Regions from separate parts of the Homo sapiens genome. Here regions 1 and 2 are each linked to region 3. Evidence: fine-mapped expression QTL. A gene starts in region 3. Each other region holds a variant in brackets. All regions are shown on one strand. Distances are from middle to middle. Region 1 has its middle 57 kb from the start of SRPK2. Region 2 overlaps KMT2E (lysine methyltransferase 2E (inactive)). Region 3 holds the start of SRPK2 (SRSF protein kinase 2).

The links. PIP is the estimated chance that this variant, and not a neighbour inherited with it, causes the effect.
Region 1: its variant is fine-mapped to the expression of SRPK2 in whole blood (INTERVAL, PIP 0.93).
Region 2: its variant is fine-mapped to the expression of SRPK2 in gastroesophageal junction (GTEx, PIP 0.98).

The regions. Positions count from the first base shown.
Region 1 is chr7:105,444,788-105,447,549 of GRCh38, reverse strand. No RefSeq gene overlaps it. Among named protein-coding and RNA genes, the nearest start is that of SRPK2, 57 kb to the right of the region's middle. The variant T/C (reference allele first, on the strand shown) is at 1,366.
Region 2 is chr7:105,035,660-105,038,421 of GRCh38, reverse strand. KMT2E (lysine methyltransferase 2E (inactive)) reads right to left here. Exons shown (of 27, transcript NM_182931.3): 2 at 223-296. Among named protein-coding and RNA genes, the nearest start is that of KMT2E, 23 kb to the right of the region's middle. The variant T/G (reference allele first, on the strand shown) is at 1,130.
Region 3 is chr7:105,387,721-105,390,482 of GRCh38, reverse strand. It overlaps SRPK2 (SRSF protein kinase 2), which reads left to right and starts at 1,562. Exons shown (of 16, transcript NM_182692.3): 1 at 1,562-1,692; 2 at 1,781-1,835. The coding sequence starts at 1,677. RefSeq lists silencers at 1,192-1,361, 1,462-1,511, 1,522-1,591, 1,622-1,751, 2,092-2,211 and 1 more.

The sequences.
Region 1 (2,762 bases), 57 kb before region 3:
GAGTTGTCATCTGTGCTTGGAGCAATAACTCATTTTCTCTCCTCTCTTACCATGTGAATTTTTCACTACTTTAAAAAATTGCTGGCTGGGCATGGTGGCTCACGCCTGTAATCCCAGCACTTTGGGAGGCCGAGGCGGGTGGATCACGAGGTCAGGAGATCAAGACCATCCTGGCTAACATGGTGAAACCTCGTCTCTACTAAAAATACAAAAAATTAGCCAGGCGTGGTGGCAGGTGCCTGTGGTCCCAGCTACTTGGGAGGCTGAGGCAGGAGAATGGCGGGAACCTGGGAGGCAGAGCTTGCAGTGAGCTGACATAGCGCCACTGCACTCCAGACTGGGCAACAGAGCGAGACTCAGTCTCAAAAAAAAAAAAAAAAAAAATTGCTGGCCAGGCACGGTGGCTCACGCCTGTAATCCCACCACTTTGGGAGGCCAAAGCAGGTGGATCACCTGAGGTCAGGAATTTGAGACCAGCCTGGCCAACATGGTGAAACCCCGTCTCTACCAAAAATACAAAAATTAGCCAGGCATGGTGGCGGGTGCCTGTAGTCCCAGCTACTTAAGAGGCTGAGGCAGGAGAATTGCTTGAACCTGGGAGGCGGAGGTTGCAATGAGCCGAGATTGTGCCACTACACTCCAGCCTGGGCAACAGAGCGAGACTCCATCTCAGAAAAAAAAAAAAAAAATTGCAATATACATTCATAACCAAGTCCACTTTCAAATAACACCATACTGCTTCATGAGTAGTACAGGTCCTTCATGGATAGTACAGATACTTTATAACAGTATTTGCTGGCCAGGCACGGTGGCCCATGCTTATAATCCCAGCACTTTGGGACGTCAAGGTGAGCAGATCATGTGAGGTCAGGAGTTCAAGACCAGCCTGGCTGACATAGTGAAACCTCGTCTCTACTAAAATACAAAAATTAGCCAGGCACGGTGCCAGGCACCTGTAATCCCTGCTACTCGGGAGGCATCCCAAGTTGGGATTGCACCGTTGTACTCCAGCCTGGATGACAGAGTGAGACTCTGTCTAAAAAACAAAAAACAAAAACAAACAAACAAAAAAACAGTATTTGCAACTCCTTTCTACTGCTTTCTAAAGCAAAGAAACGGCTTTCATTGATTTCACATTTCCATGCTATAATCATGCAATTCCTTCTTGCTATTATTATTTTGAATGGTCATATATTAGATCAGTTAATAAGAAAAGTAAAAGGTTATTTTTATTCCTTCTCTGATTCTCTTCCTTTCTTGATATGCATGAGAGTTTCTGACCTATATCATTTTCCTTTTCACTGAGGAACTTCTTTTAACAGTTTTTGCAAGGCAGGTCTGCTGGCAATAAATTCCCTCAGTTTT[T/C]GTTTTTTGAAAAAGTCTCTTTCTCCTTCACTTTTGCAAGATAATTTCACTGGATGTAGATAATTCTAAGTTGGTGGGTTTTTTCTGTCAACACTTTAAATATTTCATTCCACTCTCTATATATTTTCATGGTTTCTGATGAGAAGACCAATGTAATTCTTATGCTTGTTGCTCTATGGGTAAGGTGTTTTTTCCTGGCTTCTTTCAAGATTTTATCTTTGGGCCGGGCGCGGTGGCTCACGCCTGTAATCCCAGCACTTTGGGAGGCTGAGGCGGGCGGATCACAAGGTCACGAGATCGAGACCATCCTGGCTAACACGGTGAAACCCCGTCTCTACTAAAAATGCAAAAAAAGTAGCCGGGCGTGGTAGCGGGCGCCTGTAGTCCCAGCTACTCGGGAGGCTGAGGGAGGAGAATGGCGTGAACCCAGGAGGCGGAGCTTGCAGTGAGCCGAGATCGTGCCACTGCACTCCAGCCTGGGCGACAGAGGGAGACTCCGTCTCAAAAAAAAAAAAGATTTTTATCTTTAATTTTCTGCAATTTGAATATGATATGCTAAAATATAGTTTTATAATATTTATCCTGCTTAGTACTCTCTGAGGATTCTGGATACAATGGTTTGAATGGGTCCCCCAAAATTCATGTATTGGAAACTTGATCCCCAATGTGGCAGTGTTGGGAGGTGGGACTTTAACTTTTAAGAGGTGGTTAGGTCACGAGGGCAGGGCCATTATCTGGGGAATGGGTTTGTTATCACCAGAGTGAATTCCTTATAAAAAGAGGAGTCTGGGTTTCTCTTGCATTCTCTCTGTCTCTCATCCTCTCTTGTCCTCCCACCTTCTGCCATGGGATAACATAACAAGAAGGCCCTTGCCAGTTGCCAGCTCTTTGATCTTGAACGTCCCAGCCTCTAAAACTGTGAGAAATAAATGTATATCCAGTATAAATTAAACAATCTCAGATATTCTTTTATAGCTGCACAAAAATGACTAAGACACTGGATGTGATTTGATGTCTGTCATTAATTTTGGGAAAATTTGTAGTCATTATTCAAATATTTCTTCTGTTCTCTATTCTTCTGGTTTTCCAAAACATGTATGTTATACTTTTTCATATTGTCCCACAGTTCTTGGACATTCCATTCAGGTTTTCTTGTTTTATTTTTTCATTATTTTTTCTCTTTGTATTTCAATGTGGAAGTTTCAGTTAACATATCTGCAGGCTCACTGATTTTGTCCAGTCCACTGACATTCCTCATTTCTGTTACGGTGTTATTTTTTAAATTTCTAGCACTTCCCTTTATTGCTTCTTAGAGTTTCCATCTCTCTGCATACATTATGCATCTGTTCTTGCATGTAATCTACTTTTTCCATGAGAGCCCTTAACATATTAATCAT
Region 2 (2,762 bases), 350 kb after region 3:
CACTGCACTCCAGCCTGGTGACAGAGCGAGACTCCGTCTCAAAAAAAAAAAAAAGTTATAAATAAAGGGAAAAGGTTTTTAACACAACCTTAACAATTAACACAATGTTTCACATCTTATGTGTGAATCAAAAAACTGGTCATCCAGCTGACAAGTAAAATATGTACAAAATACATTGAGAATAAATGGCAGCCATTAAAGAAATAATAGAAAAGGAAATACCATGAGATGTCTGGTAAATCTGAGGTCCAAGAAAGAATAAATGTCTTCACAAAACCTGCTTATCCAGAATAGACCTAGAAACCAAGTGAACATAGGAGTTTTGAGCTATTTTTAAATGGCATAAAATTATAATTACTTCTAACTGACATGGTACCTAAAACCAAAGTGACTCACACAAAGCAGCCAATTCTTAAAAGGATAAATTTACTCTTCCCTTTTTACACAAATGAATGTAAACACAAGTAAAGGCAACAATCAAAGCTAAATACTAAATCAAACTGGAAAAAGAAACACTGGGATACAATATTAAATTTAATATTTAAAAATGTTTAACTGAAAAATAAATTTTAATACAATATTAAAAACAGATTTAGCAAAGGCAACAATACCAAAACAAAAACAATAAAAACAAACAAGACTCTCAAGTAGGAAAAATGAAGTAAAAGGCAAAAAAAGCAATTAAAGTAGAAAACAGTTTATCAGAAAAACTGGAAGACTGAAGCTGCCTTTAAGACCGTGTTAAAATAAACAGAAAACAGCTGGGCACAGTGGCTCACACCTGTAATCCCAGCACTTTGAGCAGCTGAGGCAGGCAGACTACTTGAGCCCAGGAGTTCAGGAACAGCCTGGGCAACATAGTGAGACATTATCCCTACAAAAAATACAAAAACTAGCTGGATGTGGTGATGCACACCTGTAGTCCCAGTTACTTGGGAGGCTGAGATGGGAGGATTGTTTGAGCCCAAGAGGTCAAGGCTGCAGTGAGCCACGATTGCACAACTGCACTCCAGCCTGGCTGACAGAGGGAGACCCTGTCTTAAAAAAAACAACAAAAAAAAGAAAACAAAAAGTAACACTTTAAAGATTAATATGATACCCAAAAGGCAGAAAGAATAAAAAATATGAG[T/G]AAAAATATTTTTCTAAAATTACAAATAAAAGAGCCCAATATAACAATCTCTTTGAGGAAAGAGCCATTTATTATATTTCTGTCCTTTATAAGCACCTGGCACAGTGCTCAATAAATATTTTAAATTAATGTATATATTTTGGATGTGTATCACTAAGAGACTAGGTAAATTTTTGGCTTAATTACTAATGGAAATAATTAAAGAAACTTGAAAGAAATTTTGAGGAGACATGTAACTGAGACTGGAAATTAAACAGCCCTTATTAGTCATTTAACATTTAATTTACAGCAGCTGACTAAGGTAAAATGAAAAGAATACTAGTCAATCAGATCCATTCCAAGTTACTACCTACGAATGCTTGGGCAAGTCATTTCACTGCTCTGACTTTCAACTATAAATGGAAGTTGATTAGGCTGATGATCTTACAATTACATTAACAGATTATTCCAAATAATCAAAATGACAGAATTTTAGATTCTAAAAAACTATAAAATATAAATGTGATAACAAAATGAATATGCATTTCTACAACTGAGCTAGCATTACTACCAGATAGTGCTCTAGAAGCACTTATCTGATACTCAAACTTCCCCAACTAGTGGTTATAATAATAATGATAGCAAATTCTGAGTGCTTACAATGCTTAATCTCCACAATAAGCCTATGGTATAGGTGCATTTATTATCCCCATTTTACAATGAGGTAGAGAGGTTAAACTTGTCCAAAGTTCATAACTAATAAATAGCCAAATCAAGATCTGAACCCTTGTGGTCTGATTCCAGAGCCTACACATCAGTATGCCTGAAATTAAAAACTGCCAGATGGCTGAGAGCTGTGGCTCACACTTGTAATCCCAGCACTTTGGGAGGCCTAGGCGGGTGGGTCACCTGAGGTAAGGAATTCAAGACCAGCCTGGCCAACATGGTGTAACCGTGTCCCTACTAAAAATACAAAAATTAGCTGGGTGTGGATACACCTGTAATCCCATCTACTTGGGAGGCTGAGGCACGAGAATCGCTTGAACCCAGGAGACAGAGGTTGCAGTGAGCCAAGATTGCTCCACTGCACTCCAGCCTGGGTGACAGACTCTGCCAAAAAAAAAAACAAAAAAAAAAACCAAAAGAACAACAACAACAACAACAAAAAACCCTGCCAGATGATAGGTAAAATAAATAATCTAGAATTTATAATTAAGGAAGAAAAAATTGACAGCTGCCTCTCTCAAAAAGGGAAATTAAATACTTAAGTATCTCACTCCAGAACATCTGAATTGCGTTTCCTCTGATTATTAAATGAAACTGCACTAACAAAACCGACCTTGCTCCTCCCTCAAACCTGATCCAGTTAACAAACTTACATTTAATCTGTAACAATGCATTAAAACACCACAAACGTGGGCAAATACAGTCTCAAAGACTAAAATTTGTGTTTATGGCCGGGTGTGGTGGCTCACATCTGTAATCCCAGCACTTTGGGAGGCCAAGGTGGGTGGATCACCTGAGGTCAGAAGTTCGAGACCAGCCTGGCCAACATGGTGAAACCCCACCTCTACTAGAAATACAAAATTAGCCGGGCACGGTGGCACATGCCTGTAGTCCTGGCTACTCAGGAGGCTGAGGCAGGAGAATCACC
Region 3 (2,762 bases):
CACTCCAGCCTGGGTGATAGAGTGAGACTCCATTTCAAAATAAATAAATAAATAGAAAGAAAACCAAAACACAAAACCAAGAATGATTCTAGACTAAAGGTGTTTAAAAAGACATGACAATTAAATGCAACGGATGATCCTTAATGGTAGACTAATTGGGAAAAAAAGAAAATCAGCGACAAGGGATATTACTGGGATATTTTGCAAAATTGAATATATATGGCCTGTATGTTACAGATGATTACATTGTATTAGTATGAAAGTTTCTTGGAGTGATCATGGAATTCTGATTATGTGGGAGATTATCTTTATTCTTAGTAGATATGTACTGAAATATTTAGGGATAAAGGGTAACAGTGTCTACAAAAACTCAAGTGATTCAGCAAAATAAACCATACACACAGACACATAGATAGCAAATGTGGCAGAATGTTAAAAATTGGTGAATATGGGTTAATTTGGCTGTTAATTGTATTTTCCTTGTAACTTTTCTATAGGGTTTGATATTTTTTTGAATATAAAAAGTTAAGGACTCTTCAAAATCCAAGCAGAGTTTCCCGTTCTGATTTATCATCCTTAGTGTAAGCCACCTTGTCAAAGATACAGTTGTGTGACCAATGAGGGAGTTAATAGTCAGAATGCGTATCTTTCAAAAACTATTGTAATTATTTACATAAATAAGAGAACATTGCAGTTATCTTTTTGTGTCACTATCAACTTGATTCACATCTTTTGTAGGCAGCCTGATAAGGTGGTTTGTCGACGGCCAGGCCTGAATTTCGATCCTGGCTGGTTAAACTTTTTAACCTCGTTGGGACTCAGTTTCCTCATTGTAGGATGCAGAAAATAACTACTTGGTGTGATTGTTGTTTTGAATTGTTATACACCTGGTGTTTACGGAAGCGAGTTTCAATTCATGTGCAAAACCTTTGTCCTACCTTGAATGCTATCTGTATCTTTTCCTTCATTAAACTCATGCAATCCTGGAGGGCACTTAGAGGTGGGAGAGAAAATGACTTCTCCAAGGTCACACCGCTAATCGCGGACCCAGGTTTCCCAGCTTTTGGTCGTGTGCCCTTTCCACGCCTGCCGGAGAGGAGGAAGCGGCGCTCATGGGGTTGCAAGGATGTAGAGGAGCAAAGGGAGAGAAGAGGCCGCGGGAAGAGAGGTGGTGCGAGACCCGCGGAGGCGCCGGCCAAGGACGGGCGCATGGAGCAGCGGGCGGCGCGACCGGCCGGGGTGCGGAGGGGAGAGGCCGCGGCGGGGAGGGAGGGTCCCGCGGGTCCGGTGCCCGGGAGAGGCGGGCGGCCTGGGCCAGCCGCAGGATCGCAGGAGGCGGAGGCCCGGGCCGCGGGCTGGGGTGGGGGAGGCCGAGGGCCAGCGCGGCCATGGGCGGCGGCCACTTCTGCACAGGTGGGTGGGGCGGGGGCGCGGGGCGCTGGGCGCGCGGCGCTGGGGTCCCGACCCCCGGGGCCGGCGGGTGGGGGCGGGGCGGGGGCGGGGCCGGACGGGGGCGGGTCTTGCTGGGTCCCTGCTGGAGCGGCGGCGGCGGCGGCGGCGCAGGCGCGGTTCTCGTCTCCTCCCGGCCGGCGGAGCGAGTGGAGGCTGCAGCCCAGCTCGTCTCGGCGCCCGCGTCGCCGTCGCGAAGCCCCCCGCCCCGCTTCCGCCGCGTCGGAATGAGCTCCCGGAAAGGTGAGTGGCCCGCGGCGCGCCCTCTCCCCGCCACGCGGCCAGCCCGGGCGGGCGGCCCGACCGTTAATGTGTGTCTTCTCTTCCCCAGTGCTGGCCATTCAGGCCCGAAAGCGGAGGCCGAAAAGAGAGAAACATCCGAAAAAGTGAGTCCACGCTGCGCCTGTCCCCGTTCCCCACCCCCGCCCCGTCGGGGGCGCCCGCGGCCGCGCAGGGGAAAGTTGTCCGGGTCCCCGGGCCGGCGGGCGGGCTGGTCCCCCGGGACGCTGGCGCTCGGCTCCTGCCCCCGGCGGGCGGCCCGGGGGGAGGGGCGGCGGCGGGGGAGGGGCGCGCGGGCCGCGGCCGGTTCCCTAGCATCACGGAGCCTCGACCCCGCGACCTCCCGCCCCGGGTCGCCACCGGCCGGCGGGCGGGAGGCCGGCGGAAAGGCGCCGGGCAGGGCGTGCGCACCCGTCCCTTGCCCGCGAGCTGGCCCGGGGGTCGCGGCCCTTTCCGGAAGGGGCCCCGGCGTCTGCCGCTGGGCTCCGGCCCGCCCGCTGCGGGAGTGCAGCGGCTGCGTTGCTCCCACCTGAGCCGCGGGCCGAGGAGGCGGAGGGGCCGAGTGTGCGGGAGGGCGTGTGTCTCGCCTCCCCTTCCTCCCCGGCCCCCGCCTGTCGGCCTTTCTGCTGAGAACCTAAGCTGGTTGTCAAGTGGTTTGCCTCGGGCGTGTTCCTGGCGCGAGTTCAGCCCCGAGACCTGTGCGTTTCGGCTCTCGGGTTTGGATTCGAAACTTTCCGCTCGGGTTGAGCGTGACTTGGGTGCGCTGCGGGCGCCGGGGTCGCGGGCTGCGCAGGGCGGTGGGCGTGTGCGCGGGAGCCGGTCGGAGTGGAAAACGCGCCCGTGGCGGCCACCTCCAGCCTGGCCGCTCACCCGAGCAGGGGGGCCGCTGCCCAAGAACCCTTTCCTGGAGAGCTGCTCCGAGACCGCACAGCGCCGCCGCGTCTTCTCCTTTTCCACTCCTCTCTCCTAATTTTTTTGATTTACCAGCGTTCGACATCGTTATCTCTTCCTCTAGATTAATTGCTTCGCTCTTT